Linked DNA regions of Homo sapiens: region 2 is linked to region 1. Evidence: fine-mapped expression QTL. A gene starts in region 1. The other region holds a variant in brackets. All regions are shown on one strand. Distances are between the middles of the regions. Region 1 holds the start of KLF6 (KLF transcription factor 6). Region 2 overlaps LOC105376360 (a long non-coding RNA gene).

Region 1 (9,038 bases):
CACTAAGACCCTTCCCAGTTCTAAATGTTCTGTGATTCCTCACCAATTATCCTAGAACATGTCAAGGTATTTTTAAATAGCACTTTCACCTAGGTATGGCATTTCATTAAGAAACTGTTTCAAGCGGTATCAGAAACAAAGGCTGCATGAGACACGGAGAAGTTCTCAGGAAACACTCGCTGATCAATGCTGCTGCTTACAGAGCAGGCCGGTCCCACTCGGGCCTCGGGCCGTCAGCATCAAACCCACACACTCCACGCTGCCCAGCAACCCTCTGTCCTGACCCTTGAGTTTCATTTAGGAAACCCCAGGGCCGCTCGAGGTAGCCTCGTGCGAGTGCACTGGTGAAGGGGCAGTGGCCTCGGATCCCCAGCACTACTAAGGGGTGGGGGGTGGAGGTTTGGGTGTCCGTGGAGAAAAGGATCTAGTCTCTTGTTTGTTTAATCTGAAAATTGTTACACATTTATCCAACTCAAAAGTCCAGTCTTTAGGATTCTACTCTGAACTCCAAAAAGACCTAATGCTTTGGTGGAAAACATCTGAGGAAGTGAGGATTTGTCTGCCCTGACCACATCCTGTGCAGCCAGGCCCGGCTCCCTCCAGGGCTGGTGCAATGCAGTGGCGCCCACCAGCGGCCGCCCTCCGGGGCCCGCGTGGGCACTGACCTGTGTGCGTCCGCTGGTGTGCTTTCAAGTGGGAGCTTTTGGTGTAAACTTTCCTGCAGCCGTTAAAGTGGCACCGGTGCACCCTCCTCCTGCCGTCGGGGGAGGCATCGCCATTTCCCTTGTCACCTGGCTTCCCCGAAGTCCCGCTGCGCACCTTCCCTGGCGAGGGCAGCTCCCCGGGCACGCAACCCCACAGTTGAGAAGGTTCCCTGCTCAGTTCCGGAGAAGATGGAGGCGTGGAGGTGACAGAGGAGCTCAATTTTCCCGAGCTGACCAAAACTTCGCCAATGGGGTCGGAGGTAAACTTGGCCGTGGGAGAAAGTTCCTCGGAGCTGTCAGAGGATTCGCTGCTGACATCTGAGTTCAGGCTGTTGGTCTCTAAGTTGTAACAAAAGCTCGGGCTGATGAGAGTGTCCTCTGGAGGACTGGAAGATATCTTCAGTTCGGATTCCTCCTTTTTCTCCCGAGCCAGAATGATTTTGGTCCACAGATCTTCCTGGCTGTCAAATTTGATTTCTGAGGCTGAAACATAGCAGGGCTCGCTCTGGAGGTAACGTTCCAGCTCTAGGCAGGTCTGTGCAAAATGAACCAGAGAAGGCACGTGATTGCCATGACGACCAAAAGTAAAAGCAAAAGCAATTTCCAAAAACATGCAAGAATGAAGGACAGATAACATTGCTGCCCGGTCACTACAGGGGCAAAACCTTTTGTAATTAAGCATCCGTGTCCTTACGGAAGTTAGAGGAAATCTGTTTCTAGAATGGTAAGAATTCAGAGGAAAAGTCGGAGGGTGAAACCTCTCCTGGCTTTCCCAATGTTGGGCCAAGGGCCACAATGAGTGATGATCACTAAGCCGGTTTTTTTGTTGTAGTTACCAGTGTTGATGTTTCTCATGAAACCAGAGGAAGAGAACCGGCCCCATACACATACTCCTCCCCAACAGGTTCAACCAGATTATCTGACATTGTCAAGAACCATGTGTTTTAAGGAAAGCCCCAGCCATCCACCCTTCACACTCCACAGATACCCACACAGGACAGAAAGACTGCACGGCACACAGCGTGTTCTGAGGGACCCCCTTGGGGACACGGCTGACAACACAGGGCCACACTCGGGGGAGAGGAGACAGCAGCTGTCTGTATTCAGGGGCATCGAATGGAGCTGCAGAAAAACCACCCATTTCCTGTGTAGCCCAGACCGCCTATGTTTTCACAGAATGCCGTTCCCAAGTGCAGGCCCTTGCATGACACAGAACTTTAATTACTTCTACAGTGGTCAGAGAAAAACAAGGAACTTCAACAACAGGAGTGCAGAAATAATTCCAGCATGGCCATCTGCTATTGTGAAGGGTGCAAGGGGAAATTACTCCACGGCCCTGCTGGGAGTCCCACAATGAACAAGAACTTTATCTACTGGCCAAGAGTACAACTGCATGAGTCATCACTCTGATTTCTTTCACGCAATGCCAAAGGAGACTTCCTTTTGAAATTCTCATCAGCAGCCAAATAAGGACCCAGCTCAAATGGACATGCAGTGTGGCATGGACAGTACCCCTTCCCCAGCCCCGCAACCAACCTTTCAAGAAGCTACAACTGCCGAGATCAGCATCCCCTCTCCCCACCATTTCAAACTTTCTAGCCACTGGAAAAGAAAAATGGTAGGAAACATTTTAGGATTAAATTATGTCTGCCCTGATTTTCACGAGGATCAGCTGCCTGCATGTCCATATAAGGTTGTCTATACTACTGGCAATTCTACAGATTTCAGTTTCTACACCAAACGGCTCTGGTGAGCACGTCATTTTTCCGGGCAGGGACCTTCCTGAGCGCAGCCTACCCCAGGGGCTCAGGCTGACTTAGCAGTGTGCCTCTCTCCTGCCACAGGCAATCCCTCCCCCTCCCCAGGCTCGCACACAGCCGGTGGGAGCAAGCACACGGGAGAATCATGCTTTCCCCTTTCCCCCGAAACCAGGCGTCTGAGTTACAATGCACACTACAGCGTTCTGAAGAGAGGCAGCAGCGATGTATTTTATTGATTTAACAAAGAAAAAAGAAAAGCACATTTATGGAGATCTTGTTAAACTTTAATAATCCGGCCAATTTAAAATCTCCATTACGCTGATGAGCACCCGGGACCTGAACGAAGCTCTCGGAGAGTTTAAAAGCCTCCAAAGGCGACCAAGAGCCAGGTCTGGCCGTTTGCCCAAATCCCAAACGCCCGAAGGAAACTACTTAGATCAATTTCAATCACGTCCTAGGGAGCAGCTTCTTTGAGGAGGAAAAAAACAGGAGGGGGAGGGGGAAAAGGCAGGAGAGGACTGTGAACAATTAAGCAGGCGTGTGAAGGTTGCAACACCCTGCATTTCATCTTCCTTAAAGCTTTCGAGGCTTGGAAACCCACAGCCTCTATTTGATCTGGCAATTCACTTTGTGACGAAAAACAAACAGCACAGCAGGGCAGGGAGACAACAGTAAACCCTCCTGCGATCGCTGGAGAGACAATGGGAGGAGTGTCAGTCTCTCTCCCCTCGGGCGATGCTACCTATAAGCACGGGGACCTGGTAAGTTTCTTAAATTTCCAATGCCCCCAAATTCCAGTTCTACGACAATGTCGGAAACCGAGGTCCTTCTTTCCAAACTAAGACTTGAAGCAGTTTGGACGGGCTCATTGTCACAAGACTGACAAGTCACTGGGGTGTACACAGTTTTATTTTTATTTTTCTTGGTCAACAAGAGAAGCAGGGAAGACAAATAAGGCAGATCTAGGGGAAATGTTAGGCATTCCAAAGAGCAGAAAACACATTGGAAATGGTCTACAGTTTAAAAAAGACAAAAATAAAAGAGAGCTGGTCTACGTTCTGGGGGCAAAATGTGATTTTTTTAAAAAACTGTTAAGTACAAGCACCAAGAAACAAAACAAAAACAAAATCCGTTAAAAAAAAACAACAAAAAACAAACAAACAAAAAAAAAACACCTTGGCAGGCAGAGCAAGTTGGTCCCCATGACAAGCTCCAGCTGTGGCGTCTGGAGCGGGGACAGGCTCCGAACTCGTGCCAGGGGCTCGGCCGGGCTGTGCCGGGAGTTGGGGCTTCCCTGGGCGGACGCTGATCGCAGCCTGGAGGATCGATCGGCGGGGGCGCTGCGCCCGCTCCCCCGGTGACAGCGCGGGGCCCAGGCCCAGCGGACCGCAGAGAGCACCGGGTCTGAACCCCAAACAGCCGACCCGGCCCGCGCCCCGGCGCCCGCAGGGAACCGCGGCCGGCTGCGTTTACCTGTTGCCAGTACTCCTCCAGAGACGGCAGCGCCGAGAAGTAGCCGGTCTCGTGCACGATCTGGAGCTCCTGGAAGATGCTGCACATGGGGAGCACGTCCATGTCGGGCCGGGTTGGACGGAGCCCGCGGTCGCGAGGGCGGCGAGGCGCGCGGTGGGAGCCGGAGCCGAAAGTCTCCCCGGAGCGCAGGTGAAAGTTTCATGCAAACTCCAGGCTCGCAGAGACGCCCGGCCGGACCCTCCCGCAGCCCGCAGCGCGCGGAGCCCACACAATATTTGCAAACACCGGACTGACTGCAAACGTAACCCCTGCAAAACTTCCCTATTCAAAGCTCCGCTGCCAGCCTCCCCCTCCGCCCCCGCCTGGCTCCCCCCACTCCCCCTCCCCCCACGTGACTCGCCCCGCGCCCGCCCCGTGCGCGGCCCAATCCCGTGGCTCCCGGCCCGGGGGCTGCGCGCCGATGATGTCAGCTCCGGCCAATCGCAGGCGGCGACACACAGCGGCCCCGCCTGGCGTGACCGAGACTCTCCATCACGGCCCGCACCATTGGCTCAATTCGAACTCTGCTCGTTCTGATTGGAAAGTGGCCTCGCAGGCTATTTTTAGCAGGGTATATAAGGCGCGGGCGGCCGCGCGCCGGAGGAGTCCGCGCTGTGAGGTGCGCGGCCGAGCCCTGCACTGCGCCCGCGGCCGGAGCTAAGGGAGCCGGGGCTGGGAGAGCCGGGGCGGGCCGCGTCGCCTGTCCCCAGTCCCGGTCTCTCTTCCCCGCTGCCCGGTCCCGCCACCCCACGCCCGTCCCGGTCACCAAGCCGGGCCCTGTCGCCGCGCGAGCCCCGGTTCCGGCAGCTCACCCTGCGGGCGGCCGTCCGGTCCCGGGGCCGCCCGGTTCCCCCCCGTCCCCTTCTATGCCCGAGGCCGCCCCGTCCCCAACTGTCCCCTTCTACGCCGGGGGCTTCCCGGTCGCCAACTGTCCCCTTCTATGCCCGGGGCCGCCCCGTCCCCAACTGTCCTCTTCTGCGCCGCTCTGTTTCCCTACATCCCCCTAGTCATCCTCTGTTCTCTAACCTTGGGGTACCCCTCTCTGTCCTCCTCCACCTCCGGGTCCCTCTCTGTCCCCCTCCATCCCTGAGCCCGTCTCCGTCCCCCTCCAGTCCTAGGGTCCCCTCTGTCCTCCGGGCCACCAGAGTGGGGGAGGGGAGCACGCAGGCTCCCCTTGGAATTGGGAGAAACGTGTTTATCTTGTAGAGGGCGATCTTAGCCCTCACCAAGGTTAACAGCTAGGTTTTCCCATGAACGTGTAAACAATTTAGGTGCAAGCCGACATTTAGTGTGTGTGTTTTTTTCCATATAAATTATCTCCTAAAATATACCGTAATGTTCATTTTTAAGAAAAATGTCGAGACTCGAACCAGAGCATTTTAAAATCCAAAATGGAAAACTGAATTGTAACTGTATTATAGTTTTTGTTTCAAAATAGTTTAATGAACATTAAACATTTTGAAAGAATGGACTATGTAAAAAAAAATTAGAGGGTTTTGTATGTTAAGTTTTAGAGGGTCCGGCAGAAGCATGTGGCTGTAAGACTAGGTGGGGACCTTAGTGAGTCTGGAGTGGAGAAAGGAGGTTTGTCTTGTACCTGCGGTATGTGGGCGGTGAAGGTTATGCAGAGTGAATTGACAGTGTTCTTGGCTCGTGTTCATCACATTTACCCCAGCAACTGAGAGCCAGGACCAGCCCTTCTTGGGGACCTGCACCTTAACTCTGTTTCCAGGAATGCAAATGGCTTTGTTTTGAACCATCCACAGATTTGCCCAAGCGCCCATTGACCGGGGCCCAGTGACTGGCAGCCGAGAGCATCTGGGCAGCCGTTGTGTTGGGGGCAGGGTTCTCTCAGTAATTAGCGCTTGTGACCTTGGCCCCGCTAGTTCCTAAGTAAGCAGGAGTGTGGAGCAAGTCCCCCGCTGAGGGCCAGGCACGCTGGATCAGGGGGAGCCCGAGATGAAGGGGGAAGGCTCTGTCTGGGCCAGGGAGGACAGGACGGCTGTCTTTGCAAGGCGTGTGGGCGTCCTGGTGAGGGTGTCCCATTTTATCTTTGGGACAATTAATTATTGTCTTAATGTTTTTTAATAAATCCACATTCCTATAGAACTTAAATTCATCCTTGTCTCTTAACATGCTTTGCCCGGCACTATGAAGATTATATAGTTTATTTTTACAAGAGGGAACCTGATTAGTCATAATGCAGATACAGTACAATGGCCATTGTCATTTTCAGAAAAAAAAAAGATTTGAAAACAGGGTACATATGAACACTAAATTTCAAATAGAATAGATCCTATGGCATCCTGCTGCGCTCATTGACCATTGAACACACATTACTCACACCCTATGAATGGCCAGGTATTGGTACACAGAAATTTACAAAACAGGCACAAATCCCTATTACGGTGTGGGAGAGGTGGGCTGCCAGGAGTATGTAGATGTTTGAAAACAAAAGTCCTTATTACGAGTAAGCATGTAACCAGTTGGTGAAAAAATATCATTTTCTTTGATGTGACAAAGAATATGCATCGCATCTGAACACTAATAGTTGCGCCTGATTTTTTTAAGAAGAGCAACAAAGAATCGTAGAGGGCCAGATTAATTCAGAAGGGGGAAGTATGGCAGGATATAAAAAGATGATGGATTTTACACTTTAGTTGTCCATGCTGTGCGCATGGCCCTGGTCACGTTATTTAAATAGGAGATTAAAATGACTATTAGAATGAGTTTAGTATAATCAGAAGAGTTAATGGATTAAAATTCCTGCTTGGTAGCAAATAGTAGTGATTCAATAAATTGAAGGCAGTGTTCACTTATTCACCATTTAGCCATTTGTAAGTTTGCTCTTGGTAATTATTTTATAATCCCCCACCCTTCTTTTAACATATGAGTGAATGCAGACAGAAAAATGAAGTCAACTTTGCAGGCCACAAAGCAAATCAGAGACAAGAGTTGGACCTCGACTTGTCCAATAATCCCACAGGTGCTTCCTTCTCCTGCCGGTCGCTGAAGAGCCCTGCTCTGTTTTCACTCTCGCAGTCTTGGAGAGAAAATAATCAGCTCCATTTGTTGGACGTGACCCTTGTTCTCTGCTCACCTTGAGCCACTCCTGTCTCTGCCACTATCTTCAAAAGGTCAAGATCCCTTCTGGGTGACAGTCGTAGGCTCCTTTCGACGTTCCTGGGGGCCACTTCACCCCCCTGGCACCCCGCTGTTACTTCCTCAGTCCCCACTTAGGCCTCCATGCCCTCCTCCACTGTTTTTCTTCTCCTCTTAGACCTCCAGGCTGTGCTCATTTATTTCATACCAGGAAGCTCTCTTTGTTGCCTCTCAAAAATAAAAGTATACATTTGAAACCTAATTTTAAATTTAATTTAAAGATTAATGGGATAACATGTTGGTATTGAGTACATTTGATCTTCCTGTTCTAGATCATTCAAGACGGGCTCTTGGGGGAAGTCTTACAAATCTGTTCTGAGGATAATTCCAATAATGCCCCCTAATTATATTGACAGAGAATGCTCCAATTTTGGGGCAAGAAGCCAATTTTGTTGTTCTGTTTTGTTTTGGTTTTGGTGTCTGTACCAATATATTGCCTGTTTTGGAGCAAACTACCCTTTTATTTCATCTGTTTATTTTGGGTGTGCAAAATATAATTGTTAAGAAAGTACTTCTGAATATTTACATGATAGAGCCTATGTAAGTGTAAAATGTTCCTTTTTTTTTGAGATGGAGTCTCCCTCTGTTGCCCAGGCTAGAGTGTAGTGGCACAATCTTGGCTCACTGCAACGTCTGCCTCCTGGGTTCAAGCAATTCTCCTTCCTCAGCCTCCCAAGTAGCTGGGATTCCAGGAATGCACCACCACGCCTGGCTAATTTTTGTGTTTTTAGTGGAGATGGGGTTTTACCATGTTGGCCATGCTGTTCTTGAACTCCTGACCTCAAGTGATCGGCTGCCTCTGCCTCTCAAATTGCTTGATTACAGGCATGAGCCACTGCGCCTGGCCCTGTGATGTTCATTTCTCAATTATCTCATTTGCAGATAGTTCTATCTAAATAGTGAGTTGCCTTTTCTCTCCCTAGCGTTTTTACATAACATGTAAGGTGTAGTAGATTCACTTTTTAACCATTTTTGCTTAGAATAATGAAGGAAAATGCCCTATTGATAGTTTTCAAAAGATGTTGAATTTTACTGTCAACATAGGCAAGGTAATAAGTACAATGACAGGATACCTCTGGGGCATTGGTCGGGGAGAACTTCTGTCTATCTAAGACCTTTGTTTTAGTAGCCCTCTTTTAAAATATAATTGTAAAATGGGACAGCTGTAAAGCTCAGTTCACAATAGGGCCTCCAGAAGGAGCTCCCTGTGAAATATCCACAGGTACAAGCTATACCACGTGTGTGGTTAAGATACCCATTCTTTACAAGGTGGTCTGTGCATTCCACACACTTCCCATCAAAATCTCAGCAGGCTTTTTTGTTGAAGTTGTCCTGCTGATTTAAAAATGTATAGGAAATGCTGAAGAGAGCTATACCTAAACCAGTCCTGAAGGTTGAAAGTTTTATATTATGTGTTTCAAGACTTAAAGCAAAATTGAACGTGATTGTGTGACATTGGCTTTGATACAGTTAAATCAATATAACAGAATATAGAGCTCAGAAATACCATCATTCTTATACACTTTTAAAAAAAAATTTTCAAAAAGGTACTAAACCTATCCCTGTGTGGTTTACTGAGGTCTTGTATCTGTGGTTTATTGTATTTCATTAAATCTTGGAAAGTTCTTGATCACTGTAACTTCAAATATGTCTTCTGTCCCATTCTCTTTCTGTTCTCTTTCTGGGACTCCAATTGCACACGTGCTAAACAGTTGGATATATTGTTCCACAGATTTCAGATGCTCCATTTCATTTTTTCATTCTTTTTCCTGAATGCGTTTCTTTTTTTATAATTTCTATTGACCTGTCTTCAGATTCACTGATTCTTTCCTGTGCTGAATCCTGTCTGCTGATGAGACCATTGAAGGGATTCCTTAGATGTGATAGTATTTTTTTATCT
Region 2 (9,038 bases), 120 kb before region 1:
CACTGACCAGCATAGTCTCAGCATGAGGCAGCTGGTCCGAGGTGCAGCTTAAACCTTTCTCAAGGGAGGTGCCAAGGTGCCACCACTGCTGGAGCCCAGGAAGAAGTGTGTGAATACTTTTCAGCCATGAAATGAAGGAAATCCTGTCGATTGTGATGACACGGATGGACCCCGAGGCGACTACGGAGCAGTGAGCATCCCCAGATACCGCCCAGCCTGGGAGGAAAAGGCTCTGTGGTCTATTTGCCTTATGTCATAAATAATGCTTATGACATAAACCTCCATGCCAGGCACGGTTTTCTGAAACTGGCCTCAGTCATCCCTGTCCCACATTCTCTTCTGGAAACGCCCCCTCCCCCATCAAGACGCAGCCTTGGACCACTCACCCCTTGCATTTGGGAGGGCTCATGGCTCACAGTCATGGTGGCACGAGAGGCTGAGCTACCCCAGGCAGGTGAGAGATGCTGCAGTGTCTGCCTTGTTGACAGCACGTGAGCTGTGGGCCCTGACGCCCCACGCAGACATCACTTGGCCTCTTGAACCGAGCCAGTGGGAGCCAAGGCCATGGAGAGGGCGCTCCCAGTGTCCCCCAGTGAGAGTCGGCCAGGCTGCCACGGCAACACATCACAGGCCGGGAGGCTTCAAAGATAGGAACCTGTATTCTCATAATTCTGGAGTCTGGGAGTCCAAGATAAAGGTGTCCTCAGAGTTGCTTCCTCCGGAAGCCTCTCTCTGCAGCTTCAGACGGCCGCCTTCTTGCCATGGCCTCACAGGGTCACCCCTCTGCCTGTGTCTGTGCCCTAATCTCTCCTTCCAAAGACACCAGCCAGATGGGACTAGAGTCCACCCTAGTGACCTCACCTCACCTTAATCACCTCTTTAAAGCCCCCCGTCTCCAAACAGTCCCATTCTCAGGCACTGGGGGACAGGACGTCTGCACATGGATTTGGATTTTGGGGGACATGATGCAGCCGAGCTGAGGTCCCAGACAATAGCAGCATCCTGCAGCCATGAGTGAGGTGGGCAGTTTCCTGCGGAAGACTCCAGCCCTGGCCCTGGGGCCACCAGACCCTGAGGACCAGAGAGAAGTGGTCGCTCTGTGCGTGCGGGAGCTCCTGGCTACAGAACCCGTGAGCAGAATACGGTGCATGTTTGTGACCTGTAGTTCTGGGCCCCTGGATGCTGATTATTCAGCCATGGTCACTGAAATACCCTCAGCCTGGGAGTTCTCATATTATCTCAACTAACCTTTGCGCACATCAAGGTGCCTGTCTCACGGATGAGGACACTGAGACACACAGGATTAAATAAACTGCCCAAAACACACAGTTGCTAAGTGGTGACCCGGACTTGAACCCAGTCTGGCTGACTCCCGAGCCGTTCCCCCCGTGGAGGAGGTCTCGGACAATGCCTGACTCCCGAGCCGTTCCCCCCGTGGAGGTGGTCTCGGACAATGCACAGAGACTCGGTGTGGAAGACCCGCGCCATTCCCACAGGCGTGTCCTGCTCTTTTCGGGACTGGCTGCAGAAGAGTCCCTGCCTGCAGCTCACCCAGCTCAGAGGATGCTGGTGAGGCCACGCCTCTGGCTGTTCCAGGCAGACCCAGCACCCATGTCAGGAGCAGCCAGTGTCTCCCCAGGACGGCAGATGGAGGCAAACCCTGGTGTCTGAGTGGCTTCAAATAGCTGTACACCTGGAAGCCTCAAAGTGCAGGGAACACGGCAGATGGGGGCAGGTGGATGCCCAGGAAGCTTCACCACAGTCACCTGGCTTATTTGCCCCGGCCGGGCCATTCACAAGGCTTGCTGCTGAAAAGGAGTAGGTAGGCTCTGCCCACCCAGCTTTGCACTGCAGGGCTGGCTCCAACCCACACAGGTAGGCAGCCTGGCAGAGGGGAAAAGCCAGCTCAGTCACTCTTAACCGCACTTGCCTGCTGGCTGCTGCTTCTTTTTCTTTTTCTTTTTCTTTTTTAAGAGAAATTGATTAAGCATTTTTCCTTTTTTCCCTGTTTCTGAAATATATTTGGAGGATACACTATTTCTATTCTGATACTCTCTCCTTAGAGGAAAAAAAAAGTTATTTTTCACCTATTGATGCAGCAAAACGGAACCAGAAGCAGGAGTTCCAAGCCAGCCGTGCCTTTCTCTCCACTTCCTTCCCTGGGTGCAACCACAGCGGCGTGGTAGTGACTGTGGATAGTAAGTTCCTGCATTGTGGCTCTTCTGCCCCGCGTCGAGGGCTGAGCTCCCTGCTCTGCCGATGTGCTTTGCCTCCTGGAAGCTTCAGACATGGAAGCCATGTTCTGCCAGACCAGGAGAAACCCCACTTTCATCCCACGTCTCTGGTTATCAGAGCATCAAATCCAAGTTTGACCTACATTACAGGGCAAGTCGGTCATGAGCACACACTGGACCATGACAAATTGATTGTCGTGACTTTATTGATGTCAAGGGGGATACAGTGCCACGATTAATAATTTACCCAACAGAGAAAAGCTTTTCTTGTCTCTGTGATGCCGGAGAGCCCAAGGTTTGATTGTTCCAAGTCCGAGCACTAAGGAGGGAGGTGCTCACACTTACAGCTCAGGTGAAAATCCACAGCAGAAGATTCCTGGTAGCCTCCTCTCTGCGTGCCCACAAGTCGTCGAGGCAGAAAGTGAAGTTTGTTCTCTTATAACAAACCATTTGGACAGACACTTGGTTTTTCTGTTCTCAGAATTTTTTCTGCTCTACCCAAACTAGGGGTTGGCGTTGCATAGGTACCATGGGCACTTGGGGAATGCCTGTTTCGTTTCATTACATTGAGCGGTGATAAGAAGATTCAGACACTAATTGGCATTTTCCCCTAAATCTCCATGGAAATGCAGTCTCTATTCCAGGGCACCATGTACTGCGAGGACTTTATACTCGCCCTCCGAGTGAAAGGAGAATGAAGGAATGAATACAGAGGTGGACAGGGTCATTTCTGTCCCATAACTGCATATTGTGGACATTTTTCTTTTCTGAGATGGAGTCTCGCTCTGTCACCCAGGCTGGAGTGTGGTGGCATCATCTCAGCTCACTGGAACCTTTGCTTCCCGGGTTCAAGTGATTCTCCTGCCATGACAGGCACCCACCACCATGCCCGGCTAATTTTTGTATTTTTAGTAGAGACGAGGTTTCACCGTGTTGGCCAGACTGGTCTTGATCTCCTGACCTCGTGATCCACCCACCTTGGCCTCCCAAAGTGCTGGGATTACGGGCGTGAGCCACCGTGCCCAGCCTTTTGTGGACATTTTAAACAGCAGGGAAATTAATCCTGAGCAATAAAAAATAAATAAATAAATAAATAAATCATGGTTTTTATTTGAATCTTAAAAAAACAAAACGAAACATGTTTTCACTTTTTTTTTTCCTTATCTAATTTGGCTACTGCTTCACTTTCTCTGCCACCTCTCTTACTGCAGTTTCAACTAAATGACTAAGCAAATTAGATCTTGAGTTGCTTTTCTGGAATGCGGAGAGTTGGAGAATCAGATAAAAGTCGAGGTATCTCTCTCTTCAGCAGCTTCCAGATCGGGGGCTGGAGCTGAGCGGGGGTGTTGTGCAATCCCGTACTGTTGTCGAGCAGGCTTCAGTTCAGGGAGACCAGGCAGGCTGAGGCCCAGGAGAGTGCCCCCTTGCATCTGCCCTGGGGGAAACTCTAGAAGGGGTAGAGAAAATCCGAGAAGAAAGGATATTTTTACACGGTAGGATTGTATTTTTATCCCCGGAGGCTTGCTGAACGCAAGTTTCTGGGTAAGTTACACAATACAGGAAAAGTAACTGTTTAGCGTATAGGTGATACGTGTTGGAGGCCAGAGCGCTCTGCAAAGCCCCGCCCCTGTGTGTGTTGTGTGGTCTGAAAACAAAGAGCAGGCATCACCTTCTGGAGGTGAGGCTGGCCCGGGACTCAGATGGCTCTAACTCTGCGGGTCGCCTGCCCAGAGGCTGCACTTCAGCCGGCGGGGAAGCCAGGATGGATCTTAAGTCATTCGATTCTCAGGCCATAGGTTGTTGCCAAACTGCAGCCTGGAAAAATAGTCTATTGATTTTCTGAGTCAAATAAAGTTATGTTAATGTAGAATTAAATAGATAGTCACATAGCTGTAACATCCCCAAAGATGGAAATACTACACATCAAATGTGCCTGTGGTCTCTTTGTTCATCTGTTCCTTCCTGTTCTTACTGCTATCAGAAAAA[A/G]ACATACCTAGCATTGCTAAATAAGGCTTGAGAAACAAGCGTGTTTTGTAAATAGCACATCTTCGTACAAACTCATATAATATTTTCAAACCCTGAAGTCGCTTGCATTTTTCTTCGCTATTCACAGCAACTCTGCAAGATGCTCCTCACATTGGGTTTAAATTGTGACATCATATCCAAATTATGTCCCCTTGGGCAACTCAACTAAACTCTTTTCCCCGTTTCTTCATCTCTAAATTGGAATGATAATACAAGCTTCCTCAAATAAATCAAAGTGAGAATCAAACCAGCCTGGCCAACACGGTGAAATCCCGTCTCTACTAAAAATACAACACTAGCCGCGTGTGGTGGCGGGCACCTGTAATCCCAGCTACTCGGGAGGCTGAGGCAGGAGAATCACTTGAACCCAGGAGGCAGAGGTTGCAGTGAGCTGAGATCGCATCATTGCACTCCAGCCTGGGTAACCAGAGCGAAATTCTGTCTCAACAAAAATAAATACATGAAAAGTCAGGTTAGGTATGTGGGTGCTAAGAACCACATGCACATGGAACTGCTTGCCGCTGTCTCCGTTATTTACTAGAGGAAGACACTGATATGGCGCCCAAGCCTATCGCTGGTCTGACCTTTTCACACCATCACAGAGGGGATATGAGGTTGGACGTGTTCTCCCTGCCAGCCTTGCCTTCTTGCCGTCACAATCATCCCTCTAGATATGCCTGCAACAAGGACCCAGAGTCCTAGGTCTTGGCGCCTTTGCTGCCGCCTCCCTGGGAGGGGTCACCCGGCACACCGTGACCTCCTCACCTCACCCCTCTGTAGCCTTCAACCCCAACCCCCCTTCTTCGCATGACAGTCAGAGTGAAGAGAGAAAGTATGATTCAGATGTGTCTCTGCTATTCCACGCTCCCAAAGGCCTCCTCATGTCTCTGGGGGCAAAAGCCAAAGTCCTCCCACTGGCCTTCAGATGCCCCACAAACCCACCACTCCGTCCCTCTGACAACATCTCCTCCTGCTCTTCTGGATCCAGCCACCTCCTTGTGTGTCTTCAAGCTCTGCAGCCTTCACAGGGGCCCCTCCTGCCTGGAGCACTCTTGCTGTGTATCTGCGTAACTTGCCTCTCCACCTCCTCACCTCCTGTCTCCCGCTCTCCGTCCTTCTTCCTGCTGTTCCTTTCCTCCGCAGCACCATTCACCTTCTAACAGGCTGCTCCTCATGACTTCTGTATTTGGTCAGTTTCCCCAAACAAGAACGCAAACTCCACCAGGCAGAGGCTTGCACTTGTTTCGTTCTCGGTGGATCCCCCATGCCCCTGGAACAACACGTAGTGGGCATATGATCAGTATTTGTCGAATGTGTAAATAAAGAAAGGAAGTAAGGAACAAATGAATGGACACATGAAATGTGTTGCAGGCAGAAAAAAGTTAGAAAAGACAACACGACATTGCGCAGGAGTTGAGAGGAAGAAAGGAGATCTGGATTGTGATGTTTTCCCCTCCCTTACCAAAAGGCAGTTTTACCAACAAACTGAGTCAGAATAATCATTGCAGCAGAATTTGCCAGAGGTCAGGGACCTGCCGGCCAGTCTCAGTAAGATGAAACGTAGAAAATTCACTCACTATCCCCAGAGAGCACAAGGCTTAGGGTGTCCATCGGGGAGTGGCTGCTCACGGGGTCAATGGGGCCAAGAAGGAGCAGCTTAAGTAAAAATAAAGGGTATTTACTGGGGGATGCAAAGGAGATGGAACTGGGACATGGAAATCTGTCGGGGTTTTGAAGATTATTCTCTCTCTCTACAGCTGGTGTCCCCTTCTCCCTGCTGTCCCAATGCTCCCACCAAATCAGTCAACGTCATACGTAGACTTGCCCATCGTACAGCTCACCCTGTGGCACAGCAGGGCCTGCACGTGCCCTAGTGCAGGACGCCAAGTCACCCAGTGCTGATTCCTGATTTCTAGGACAGAAGATCCACTGGCTCACAATGGCTTAGGTGTCCACCTGGATCATGGCCCTAGCCAGGCAGTTGAGGCCCAGGACAGCCAGGGCACTCCTGAGAGGCTGTCTCTGGAGAACTATCTGGGGGTCTGGGGGACTCAGGGCTGGACGGACTCCCAGAAACATTCTCATCCAGAGCTGGGACAGGAATACCTCCAGCATCCGTAGCTCCCATGGACAATGTGATGCCCTTTTAAAGCAGCAAGTACATGGCACTGGGTGCCATGGGCATGGGAATGATAAGGACCGTGGGGTGGAGCAGAGAAATTGGTTTTACATTGTAGCTGTGGACAACACTGTTATTTTGTATTATTTGTTGTACTTAACATGATTCTGTACAAAGAATGCTCGAAAGGAGAAAAGACAGAGGAAGTTCAGTAAATTAGAGGGAAGTTCCCTGCTGTGCCATGGAGCAATATTTATAATCTGGGCCCTTTAGGGAAGGGATTACTGGCACAGAGATTACAACGGCGCTGTAAGAAGAGATTCCAGACCAGTTTTGTAATTTATTTCACTTTCATGAAACCCCCCACAAATCAGAAAAGCTCTGTAAGTAGAGACTTCTCTGAAGGGAACATCCAAGGGAAGAAGCTCCTCCCCTCTTGAAGAGGTGGTGGAGGGACCTCGGGAGGGTGGAATTCAAAGCAGTTAAGCAATCGTCATTGAACGCGTGGCCCCTGAGCACGCTGGCTGCAGGGCTGGTTCCCTCACCTCGCTGCTCCCTGGCATCCGACCTGTGAGATGGTAACAGTGGCATCTACCAAATAGGACTGTAGTGAGAACCGCTACGAGTCTCTAATGCACAGCAAGGTTTATGTGAATATTAGCCATTTTTACTATTGCTCTGATTCCTGGGGAGTAGCTGAAAGTCAGTGCACTCAAGCCCCTGAAGTGCCGTCTTCTTGTCACCATCATGATTTTCTCTTTTAGCCATACTTGTTCATTATTGGTGCTATACATGAATCAATTTTTTTCTTTAAATAGCATGATTTGTGTGTATGTTGTGTATTTATTGTATCCACTAAAGTGAACACATAAATATTAAAATAAAAATATGCATTTAGATGCCATTGAATTAATCTCTGGGCACACCACTATTTGGGGCACACTGTCCTACAAAATGCGTATGGTTCTGTATCTATAGAACAAATTATCACTGTCCCCAAGGCATAACCACTGCCTGCAGAGGTCCTCACTGATGGTGGAGTTTGCTCTGATGCTCTGGCCTGGTCACTGCAGCTTTCTATGTCTGATTCACGTCTTTCTTTTTGGCACTGTCTCCCACTAGCACTACACCAGATTCCTGTAATTCAGTTAAACTGGTGAGCAGACCATGCAACCAGCTTCTGCGACTCAGGCTGTTTCCCGGAATGCAGCATCCGTCCTGCAGTGTCCTTCTTCACTGTCTTTTTTTATCTTCACAAAACTTCTTGCAAACAAAATCCTATTTTTTTTTAATTTTTATTTGAGACAGAGTCTTGCTCTGTCACCCAGGCTGGAGTGCAGTGCTGCGATCCCAGCTTATCACAAGCTCCATCTCCCGGGTTCAAGCAATTCTCCTGCCTCAGCCTCCTGAGTAGCTAAGATTACAGGCACCTGCCACCACATCTGGCTAATTTTTGTATTTTTAGTAGAGATGAGGTTTCACTATGTTGCCCAGGCTGGTCTCAAACTCTTAGCCTCAAGTGATCCACCCATCTCGGCCTCCCAAAGTGCTGGAATTACAGGCGTGAGCCACCATGCCCAGCCTGAATCCTATTTATTTAATTGATTTACAAACAATTTTCAGAAATGAAAATTTCAAATTGACTTTTAACTGGTAATTTCTTTTAAAATCTGAATCTAGGCCAGGCACAGTGGCTCACGCCTGTAATCCCAGCACTTTGGGAGGCTGAGGTAGGTGGATCATGAGGTCAGGAGGTCGAGACCATCCTGGCTAACATGGTGAAACCCCGTCTCTACTTTAAATACAAAAAAATTAGCTGGGCTTGACGGCAGGCGCCTGTAGTCCCAGCTACTTGGGAGGCTGAGGCAGGAGAATGGCCTGAACCCAGGAGGCGGAGTTTGCAGTGAGCCGAGATCGCACCACTGCACGCCAGCCTGGGTGACAGAGTGAGACTCCATCTCAAAAAAATAAAATAAAATCTGAATCTGTAAGTTTCTTCACCCTTTCCTTTTGTCAAGAAGTTAGTGATCTGTTGCAAACTACAATAACATAACTACTTAATATACCTAGAAGAAATACAAAGAAATATGTAGGCATTATGCCAATAGATTCAACAATTTTAGATAAAATTGAGAAATTACTTGAAAGACACGTTATCAAAAACTGACACAAGAAGTAATAGAAACTATGACTAGCTCTAGATTTATTTTTTAAATTGGCTTCTTAATTTAAAATTTTTGATGAAGAAGAGTCCAGACCTAGATTGATTTATCAGTGGGTTCTGTAAAAACTTTGAGAAGAAACAATACCAGTTTTATGTAAGCTCTTTCAAAAAGTTGTGGAAAATCTTGTAAAGGGGATTACTTTTGAACCTATTTTATTAATTAATTATCTTTATAAAAAGATTAGATAAAGAAGATAGAAATGCCATTGATTAATATTCCTTACAATGTACCTGAAAATTTATTCATAAAATATTTGCAAATCAAATCCAATAATATGTAAAAAAAGACAATCCCTCATGACCAAGTGGGATTAATCCCAACAATGCAAGGTTGGTTCATTTGTCAAAAATTAGTGTATTTCACCATATCAATAGAAAACAGGGCTGGGCGTGGTGGCTCACGCCTGTAATCCCAGCACTTTGAGAGGCCGAGGCG

What was found. PIP is the estimated chance that this variant, and not a neighbour inherited with it, causes the effect.
Region 2: its variant is fine-mapped to the expression of KLF6 in whole blood (TOPMed, PIP above 0.99).

What each region holds. Positions count from the first base shown.
Region 1 is chr10:3,780,976-3,790,013 of GRCh38, forward strand. It overlaps KLF6 (KLF transcription factor 6), which reads right to left and starts at 4,234. Exons shown (of 4, transcript NM_001300.6): 1 at 3,938-4,234; 2 at 666-1,239. The coding sequence starts at 4,039. RefSeq lists enhancers at 439-1,274, 2,132-2,201, 2,362-2,431, 2,500-3,055, 3,056-3,612 and 1 more, silencers at 3,774-4,373, 4,624-4,903, 5,084-5,143 and a promoter at 4,035-4,972.
Region 2 is chr10:3,664,932-3,673,969 of GRCh38, forward strand. The region is part of intron 1 of LOC105376360 (a long non-coding RNA gene); the gene reads left to right. Among named protein-coding and RNA genes, the nearest start is that of KLF6, 120 kb to the right of the region's middle. RefSeq lists an enhancer at 3,412-3,913. The variant A/G (reference allele first, on the strand shown) is at 4,221.